2 linked regions of the Homo sapiens genome follow. The gene in region 2 interacts genetically with the main gene of each other region. Each region holds a gene or a part of one and is shown on either strand. Other genes may lie near its edges.

Evidence for each region. A genetic interaction does not mean that the proteins touch.
Region 1: changes in ELOA (region 2) and FASN together harm fitness less than expected from each alone (positive genetic interaction), as found in Homo sapiens cells (one large-scale study listed by BioGRID).

What each region holds. Positions count from the first base shown.
Region 1 is NC_000017.11:82,077,486-82,082,191, forward strand, and holds the end of FASN (fatty acid synthase), read right to left. Parts: intron 4,676-4,706; coding exon 4,524-4,675; intron 4,359-4,523; coding exon 4,116-4,358; intron 3,868-4,115; coding exon 3,679-3,867; intron 3,438-3,678; coding exon 3,207-3,437; intron 3,106-3,206; coding exon 2,885-3,105; intron 2,754-2,884; coding exon 2,655-2,753; intron 2,124-2,654; coding exon 1,872-2,123; intron 1,796-1,871; coding exon 1,658-1,795; 3' UTR 853-1,657; downstream 1-852. UniProt on the Homo sapiens protein: Fatty acid synthetase is a multifunctional enzyme that catalyzes the de novo biosynthesis of long-chain saturated fatty acids starting from acetyl-CoA and malonyl-CoA in the presence of NADPH.
Region 2 is NC_000001.11:23,756,463-23,761,269, reverse strand, and holds part of ELOA (elongin-A), read right to left. Parts: intron 4,318-4,807; coding exon 4,145-4,317; intron 1,759-4,144; coding exon 1,697-1,758; 3' UTR 1-1,696. UniProt on the Homo sapiens protein: SIII, also known as elongin, is a general transcription elongation factor that increases the RNA polymerase II transcription elongation past template-encoded arresting sites.

The DNA.
Region 1 (4,706 bases), on a different chromosome or scaffold from region 2:
GGCCCGTGGTGTTCACTGTAGTCCTGGCCCACTACCCTGCCCTGGGAGATGGCCCCTGCGCCCACCCCTCCCCTGCCTCTCCAGCAGGGGCTCTCCCAGCCCCCCACCCACCTCTGTGCCTTGGCACTCACACTGAAAGGGCCTCTTCTGTGGGCATGCTGTGCCTTCCGGAACCCCGGGCTGGCCTGCTTTGCCCATTCCCGAAATCCAATCCTGGCTCTCGCTCCTGCCCATGCCTCTACCCCAAGCTCATGTCCACCCAGCGGCCCCCCGCACAGCCACCCGTGGGGTGCTGCCCTTATGGGTCCTGGAGGCTGTGTCCACCCCACCCCTCGATGCCGGGGGTCCAGGTGCCCAGGGCTCCCTGTCCCTTGCTCCCTCCCAGCCTCCACTCCTTTGCCTAAACCCAAGTCTTCTGGGTCAACCTGGCCAGCCAGTGGCGCTATTGACACCGTCTTGGTGAGGCTGTGACGGCATCTTTGGCAGGGCGAATGCCTGCAATCCACTGACTTCAAGCAAATACTATTCTCCACGAGGGGCCTCTCCTCAGCTGAAGCCAACTTCCCAGTGTCTGTACCTCCTACACGTTTCTCACTGGTGGTGTTTCTTGGCCAGAGCCTCGGTACCCCCCCCCCCGCCAGTCCCAGCGCTTTCCCGGGAAGCCCGGGGCTGCCACGCGGGCTCCTTCCTCACTCCCCGGCCCAGCCCCGGCTCTGGGACATGGCCTAGGGGTGTGTGGGAACTGGGGACCAGAGGACAGAGGGCATCCCCTTCACGGCCCCGTGACTGGGTGGGGTGGAGCTGGAGAGCTTGCAGCTGCCAGGTCAGGGAGGAGGGAAGAAAGGACGGTGGTGGAGATCACATGCGGTTTAATTGTGGGAGGCTGAGAGCAGCATTTTTACCAAATTGGTGTAAAAATGAAACGGGGTCCAGACGTGTACACTGACAGTTACAGTAAATTTCAAAATCCAAGCAGCAATTTGAATCATTTCTTGAAAAACAAACACAGACAAACACCAAACATGGAGTTGGTGCCCGGCGCCGGGCATAAGGGCAGCACCCCACGGGTGGCTGTGCGGGGGGCCGCTGGGTGTGGCCGGGCCCTGTGTGCCTGTGCAGGGGCCCAGCTCCTCGGGGACTGGCCCACGACCCCCCACTCAGCGGGCTGAGCCAATGCCTGGCCGAGAGGGGGCCGCAGCCAGCAGGCTTGGGTGGCTGCCCGCGCCCGCAGGGGACATCGGGGAAATGGGGGCAGAGTGCGGGACCCACACGCTGCCTGAGGAGTCTTGGCAGGGTGGACAGGCCTGGGGGTCTCTACCAGCAATGCAATAAATATGCAAATCCAAGCACAGAAAGACCAAGCGCAGACCCCACGGGCGCACGAGGCCCAGCCCAGTTCCTGCGGGCACGGGCACCACCGGCTCTTCACAGACCAGGAGTCTCCAAGTCGGCAGCTCTGGTGTCCCCGAGGTGCCGTGGGAGGCGGCGGGTGGGTGGGACATGCCTAACACCTACATCTAGCAGCCTCGGGGGGCAGTGGCACTGGGCCGGACAGGGTCCCACCGGCAGGACCCTTCAATCCCGTTGCATGGCGGGGGTGGGGTGGGGTGGGGTGGGGATGGTGGAGTGACCTCCGGTGGCAGGCGGGGGCACGGGCCTAGCCCTCCCGCACGCTCACGCGTGGCTCAGCCAGGGAGCTGTGGATGATGCTGATGATGGACTCCAGGCCGCTGCCCTCCAGCAGCGTGCGGTGGTCACCCTCGATGACGTGGACGGATACTTTCCCGTCGCATACCTGCAGGGGATGCGATCAGCTGCCGTCCCACCCCACTCCTGTCCCTGTCCCCGTTCCCGTCAGGCCCCTTGCGCACCTGGGAGAGGTTGTAGTCCGCGCCCAGGTCCTCGCCGTAGGCGCCACCCGTCTTGGCGCGCAGTAGCATCACGTTGCCATGGTACTTGGCCTTGGGTGTGTACTGCTCAGCGGCACGCAGCTTGTAGTAGAAGGACCGGGCCGCAAAGCTCAGCTCCTGGCGGTCCAGGCCCTGGTGGCTCTTGATGATCAGGTCCACGGCGGCTGCCACACGCTCCTCTAGGCCCTTCAGCGGCAGCAGCGCCTCCAGCACCTGTGGGGTCGGGCTCTGAGCAGGTGCTGGCAGCACCCACAGCACCGGCCTGCCCTGTGCTACACTGCGGGTGGGCTTTTTTTTTTTGAGACGAGTTTCATTTTTGTTACCCAGGCTAGATGGAGTGGGGCGATCTCAGCTCACCGCAACCTCCACCTACCCGGTTCAAGCGATTCTCCTCCCTCCGCAACCTCCACCTACCCGGTTCAAGCGATTCTCCTCCCGAGTAGGTGGGACTATAGGTGAGTGCCACCATGCCTGGCTAATTTTTGTATTTTTAGTAGAGAAGGGGTTTCTCCACGTTGGTCAGGCTGGTCTCGAACTCCCGACCTCAGGTAATCTGCCCGCCTTAGCCTCCCAAAGTGCCGGGATTACAGGCATGAGCAACCGCATCCGGCCGGGATCGGCTATTAAAGGGGTGAAGTTGGGGGGCCTTTAACGCTCTTCGCGTCCCATCCCATCCTTCCCTTCCCCCTTCCGTTCCTGCCCAGTACTCTGGGTCCTGCGGCCTCAGGGGTGTCCAGGACCCACCCTGTTGTGCTCCATGTCCGTGAACTGCTGCACGAAGAAGCATATGGCCTCCGTCTCAGCCTCAGCCTCACAGCCTGGGGTCAGCTTTGCCCGGTAGCTCTGAGAGGAAGGAGGGACTGCTGAGCAGATGGAAGGGGCGGGGCCTCCTAAGCGACGGTCCCCCAAAGCCAGGGCACAGGTGGGGAGCCCAGACGTTTGCCGTAGGCCTCTAGGACCAGCCTGGCTCTCACCTGGGTGTAGGCCAGTACGTAGGTGGGCGAGCCGTCGAACAGGAAGAGGCTGTTGTGGGTGGGGGCTGGGCTCTGCTGGGCCTGCAGCTGGGAGCACATTTCAAAGGCCACGCAGGCCCCGTAGGAGTAGCCGGCCACGCGGTAGGGGCCCTCGGGCTGCACCTGCCTGATGCAGTCGATGTAGTAGGCAGCCAGGCTGTGGATGCTGTCAAGGGGCGCAGCTGCAATGGCAGTGCCGGGCACTCAGCATGTGCAGGCGGCAGCCACGGGCCCCGTGATGGCCAGCACTGACCACCGCTTCCAGAGGAGGGCCCGGGAGTACCTCGGGTGCACTGCAGGCCATAGGTGGGGATGCTGAGCCGGGAGGCCAGGCTGTGGAACACGGTGGTGGAGCCCTCGATTGGGTGCACCAGGAACAGGGGCCGCTCCGAGCTCTGCACGGAGTTGAGCCGCATCAGGGTGGGGCCCTCCGGGTTCACCAGCAGGGAGCGCAGGTTCAGCTGAGTCTGCTGCTGGGCCAGACCATCCTCCTTGGGCGTGGGGCATGCCAGCTCTGTGAAGACAGGGGCAGATGCCAGGCTGGTCTGGGTGCAGAGCCCTGGCACCCACGCAAGGACACACAGACACGCACGCAGGTCCCCACGGTGCTACGTCAGGTGGGAGTCGGGGTGGGAACGCTCAGAATGGCACCCGTGACGAAGGGCGGTATGCCTGCCGGGACACGGTCCAGACAACAAGGAGGAAGGGCTGGGGAGGCCCGGGGACCCCACTCCCGCCTGGCCACCCACACGCACCGCTGGCCTCATCCGCCTTTGAGGACAGCTCCTGCAGTTTCCGGAGCGTGAGTTGCCGCACCTCGCGCACGGACAGCACCAGGTTGAGCTCACGCTCCAGCGTCTGGCGCACCTCCACGCTCATGAGCGAGTCCAGGCCCAGGTCCGCCAGTGAGCTGTCCAGGTTGACAGCAGCCAAGTCGCGGATGCCTGGAAGGGATGCGCCGGGTCGGCAACTCCAGAGGGGGCATGGGGACGGCCTGTATGCGGCAGGGCTGACACCCAGGGGTGCGTGGGCTGTGCATCTCCCAAAGCACCACCACCACAGTGACACCTGCGCCCGCACCCTGGCTCTGCAGATGGGGAAACTGAGGCGCACAGGGGCACGACTGCTATGTCCCAAGACCCTGATGCCAGCAGGGGAAACACCTGGCGCGGCTCCTACTGGGAGTGCTCACCCAGGATGTGTGCCACGGCCTCCACCAGGTCCCGCTGGCTGTCCCTGTCCCTATAGGCCGCAGCCTTCTCAGCCAGCACAAAGCTGCTCAGGACCATGTGGGGCTGGTTCAGGAAGAGGTCCAGCACCTCCAGGCAGGACGCCATGCGCTGGGGCAGCGTGCCACTGACGATCGTGTCGTTGGTGCTCATCGTCTCCACCAAAATGCCCACGTCGCCGATGGCGCCCCACTGCACGGCCAGGCCTGTGGGGGAGGGGGCAGGTGGGCAGAGCTGCGGGGAGGTCGGGGTGGGGAGTGGCCACTGGGAGAGGGTGGGGTGGGCAGGGCTGCGGGGAGAAGGTGGGGGTGGGGAGTGGCCACTGGGAGAGGGCAGGGTGGGCAGGGTCGAGGGGAGAGGGTGGGGCCCACCTGGGAGGCCTTCGTGCCGGCGTTTCTCACAGATACGCTCCATGGCGGAATTGGCAAAGCCGTAGTTGCTCTGTCCCGCATTGCCACGCCCGCAGCTCACAGAGGAGAAGACCACAAAGTAGTCCAGCTCAGGGCACGCCTCTCGGGTCACCCTGTGGGCACGCGTGTCACTCCCCATTGGCC
Region 2 (4,807 bases):
AGGCTAGGGATAGGGGTGGAATGGTGGTACAAGTAACCAAGAGAAGTAAAGTAATGCTTTACCCATTCAAAAATATAGCAAATTAAAACATAGTAACATTTGTGTCCTGTCACAATAGGCACCCTGCACAGCAATACACACTGAACAATGTCGAGTTTCTGCTGAATAGACTTCCTACGTTGCTCTGGAATTCGAAGTTGGCCTAACTGAGGTCTCCAGTTACAGAAAACACTGGCTCTGTATCCTGGGCTTTGAGAAAACTTATCAGGCTGTCACACTTACCATCCCTTCAGTCTGCTTGTCAGGTTCCTTAAGGACGCATATCTCAAATGTATGGCATCTACCTCTACCTGGGTCACAACCAAGTGGGTTTCTACTAGATCGGTGTTCCTTGACAGCCAACAAGGGAGCTGACACTGCCCTCCTAAGTTCTGATCTTGCTCCTGTTCAACTGGAACTTGATGGATCCCATGTGGTTTCCCCCATCCTGACGCTGTGGCTCAGACACTCTCCCTAAGCTGGTCCTTCCCTCCAAATCCTGCCTTAAACACACTCAGAAGGTAGAAAACACTTCAGCAGCAAAGTCCTCTTCCCAAGCCAACAGTTGTGTTCTTCCAATCACATGATCTTACCTTTTCAATAAAAGGCAAAACAAACCAATTTCCAACATAGCATTACAGCCTTTAAAACCATTCACTTCTCATAGTGATTCACAGAGAACAAGAGATTAAAGTGCTGGATTTTAAATGTCTAAAGTTGCCTTCAGGGCTACAAAAAGCCCTGCCGTGTGTGTTTTTCCTTCATGGTGTTGAGGGGAAGGAAAGATAGGGAAGGGCAGTGGGGAGAAACCCTAAAATTTTCAATCAGAAACTGGAAATTGTAAAAGTGGGAGGTGGGGAGTTCTGTGCAAATCAATCTCCCAAGGTTCTGCGTCCTCTAGTGAGCCTCAAAGAAAAAAAAAAAAACAAAAAGGTGGGGACTCGCAAAAAGGATGAGGGAAAGGCTCCAGACCTACAGAGCACCTCCCTTAATAAATACCAGTTAGTAAGAAAGAGATGCACCTGCACAGGAATGCACAGCAACAGTGGGGAGGGCCTGAGGTGGAGTCCGCCGAGCACCCTGTCGCCCCACTGAGGCTCCCTTGGGGACAGGCGGTCTAGTGCTCATTCCTTGCCCTACGTGCAGCAGGTACTGTGCAGGCTCTGGAGATGCCCAGTCCTCTGTCTGGACCAGAGTCCACACAGAGCTGAGCTGGGGCAGGAGACTGGCTTTCACTAGGCTTTCATCTGATTTTAATAAGGACCTGGAAGATAAAAGGCTAAATGTGTGGTAGAGGACAAAAAACAAAAACAAACCTGGGGGATAATATAAATACAATCTGGGGGCAATATTTATTAATTAAAACTACGTCTTATAGTTTACAAAGATGCTAATGAACAACAAAAGTATAATTGACCTTTAAAATCCTCAGTGAGACAGAGGCTTCACATCTTCAGAATTCTAAAGTGTGCTCCAGGCAGGGAGGCGGGGCTGTGGCACGCAGGTTCCCAGGGGCAGCACCTGCAGACTGCAGGACTCGGAGACCAAAAGGATCCACAAAGCAAGACTCCAGTCTCCTGTAGAATTCCATTCCCCAACCCCCACTGTCCTTGTATTCCTGCCTCCCCAGATTCCATTTCCAAGGCAAGTCCTCAGTTTATCGTCGGGAGAATCTGTTCTTGAAAGCTTTAATTGTCTTGGCCATCATTGGGGCAATTTCTGTGAAAAGAGAAACAAGGCAGCTGTCTCAGATCTGTGGCGGCTTAGACACACCCCCAGTAGTTTACAGTCAAAGCCAGCTCTGCTATTCTTGGCTGTGCACCACCAGGCAGAGATACAAGTAGTAACTATCTCCTCTGTTCACAATGCAATAAAAGCAACAGCACAGAGCAGACACTTTCGGAGGACCTGCCAGGGGCATGACCACCACTCTCTCTAACCACCTGCACCAAGGCTCAGAGAGCCTGGCCAACTTGCCCATGGTTGTACAGTAAGGTACAGAATTACAATTCAATCTCTGTCAGACTTTCTTGTTTTTATTTTTGTAAGGAAAGAGTCTCACTCTGTCACCCTGGCTAGGGTGCATTGGCACAATCACAGCACACTGTAGCCTCTACCTCCTAGACTCCAGAGTAGCTGAGACTACAGGAGTGTGCCACCATGCCTGGCTAATTTTTTTTTATTTTCTGTAGAGTCAGGGTCTCACTATGTTGCTCAGGCTGGTCTCGATCTCCTGGGCTCAAGCACCCTCCTACCCCAGCCTCCCAAAGTGCTGGGATTACAGGTGTGTGTGAACCACTGTGCCCCGGCCCTTGCCAGACTCTAAAGGCCATACTCAGTCATAACTTAACTTTGCCTCACAAATAGCCAAACCAGTAAACAGCACGTCTACCCCCAATCTGTCCAGTGTAGAAACAGGTCTAAGGTGGCTATGCAAGTACTGCCTAAGGAAGGCCAGCCTGCCTCCTGAATGGTTCATCTGAGCATAGCTGTAGCTCAAGCCAGGACTCCCACCCTCCCATGGGCCCTGCAATTAATACAGAATAAGACTTAAGTTAGGACATCCCCTTAGGATACTGGGGATAGTCTATGGTAATAAAGTTAACAAAATACAAAATAGACGCAACTAGATATAAAGAATAAATATTTGGAAGACCCGGCCAGGCATGGTGGTTCACGCTGGTAATCCCAGGACTTTGGGAGGCTGAGGCGGGCGAATCACAAGGTCAGGGGTTCGAGACCAGCCTGGCCAACATGGTGAAACCCCGTGTCTACTAAAAATACAAAAAATTAGCTGGGCTTAGTGGCGGGCACCTGTAATCCCAGCTACTTGGGAGGCTGAGGCAGGAGAATCGCTTGAACCTGGGAGGTGGAGGTTGCAGTGAGCCGAGATCACGCCACTGTACTCCAGCCCAGGCGACAGAGTGAGACTCTGTCTCCAAAAAAAAAAAAAAAAAAAAAAAAAAAAAAATAAATAAATAAATTGGAAGACCCAATTAGATATAAAGAATAAATATTTGGAAGCTAGAGTTATAAGACTATAAAAAAACAGTAAGAGGGCCTGTCATTTAGCTGTTAATATTAGTAATTATGAACACTGTGGTATTGCCTAGAGAAGTCAGTTTATATTTAGGTGAAAAAAGAAGAGTGCCAAAATGGTCATTCACAATGATATTTATTTATTTATTTAGAGACAGTGTCTCACTCTGTCATCCAGGCTGGAGGGCAGTGGCACAATCCCAGCTCACTGCAACCTCTGCCTGCCAGGTTCAAGCAATTCTCCTGTCTCAGCCACCCGAGTACCTGAGATTATAGGCACATGCCACCATGGTGGGCTAATTTTTCTATTTTTAATAGAGACAGGGACCATGCCTGGCCAGATACTATTTTCTACTTTCACTTTTTTTTTTTTTTTTTTTCCAGAGACAGGGTCGGCCGGGCACAGTGGCTCACGCCTGTAATCCCAGCACTTGGGAGGCCAAGGCGGGCAGATCGCGAGGTCAGGAGATCGAGACCATCCTGGCTAACATGGTGAAACCCCGTCTCTACTAAAAAATAGAAAAAATTAGGTGGGCATGGTGGTGGGCACCTGTAGTTCTAGCTACTTGGGAGGCTGAGGCAGGAGAATGGCATGAACCTGGAAGGCAGAGCTTGCAGTGAGCTGAGATTGTGCCACTGCACTCCAGCCTGGGTGACAGAGCGAGACTCCATCTCAAAAAATCCTCCCACCTCAGTCTCCTGAGTAGGTGGGACTACAGGTGTGTACCACTATGCCCTATTTTTTAATTTTTTGTAGAGGGTCTCATTATGTTGTCCAGGCTGGTCTTGAACTCCTGGATTCAAGGGATCCTCCTGCCTCAGCCTGCCAAAGTGCTGGGATTACAGGCATGAGCCACTGCACCCAGACTCACTATAACTATTTAAGAGATATAATGCACTATGGACAAAGCAGGGGGAAGGAGGGACTGACATTCAGACCAGCTATGTGCAAGGCATCATGTACATGCAACATGCAGTCCACAAAATGTAATACAGTGAATAATGACATTGAGAGTTAAAAACTAGTGCTGAAATAATATTTGAGCAGGAACTCCAAGTTACTTACTCTTCACAGTGGGTTTCCTAGGATCATAGGAAACAGTGCTGCTGACCACTGGTGCCAAGTGGGCACTGCTGGTGCTTGGGCCATCATAGGCCGGCTCCTCAGGGCTGGGGTTAAAGCTGATGCTACTGGCGGAAGCATGGCTGCTTCCCATGGGGTACGGGGCTGGCTTGATCCTGCAACACAGGACAACACTGGTTAGGCATGAGCACAAGAAATCTGCCCTGAGCATGAACAGCCTGAAGCTGGCCTGTGTGAGGATGACTCACCCTGTTTGTGGCTTTGACCAATGGACCCTATCACCCTGGATTCTGGTGGTGGCTCAGAGATGTCTCCATTATCCTTTCAGAAAAAATGATAATCTCAACTAACTTTTCACTGTTTTGGTATAAATCTGTATTTTGAAAAGGCTAATGTGGCTTAGACAAAATAACAATCATTGCAGAAATGTGTTTTTTGTTTAGATGGGAAAAGGGAAAGCATAAGGGAATGTTTCCCATAAGCCAGGCTTTGCTCTCCATTTAATCTTGACTACCCTAGGGCAGGGGTAATTATCACCTTGCACTGCAGTCCAAGAAGCGGAGGCTGAGGGAGGTGAGGGAAGTGCTGAGCTGATGAGGTCTGCCTCCAGAGCCCACAGTCTGCACTGCCTCACTTTCACCAAAA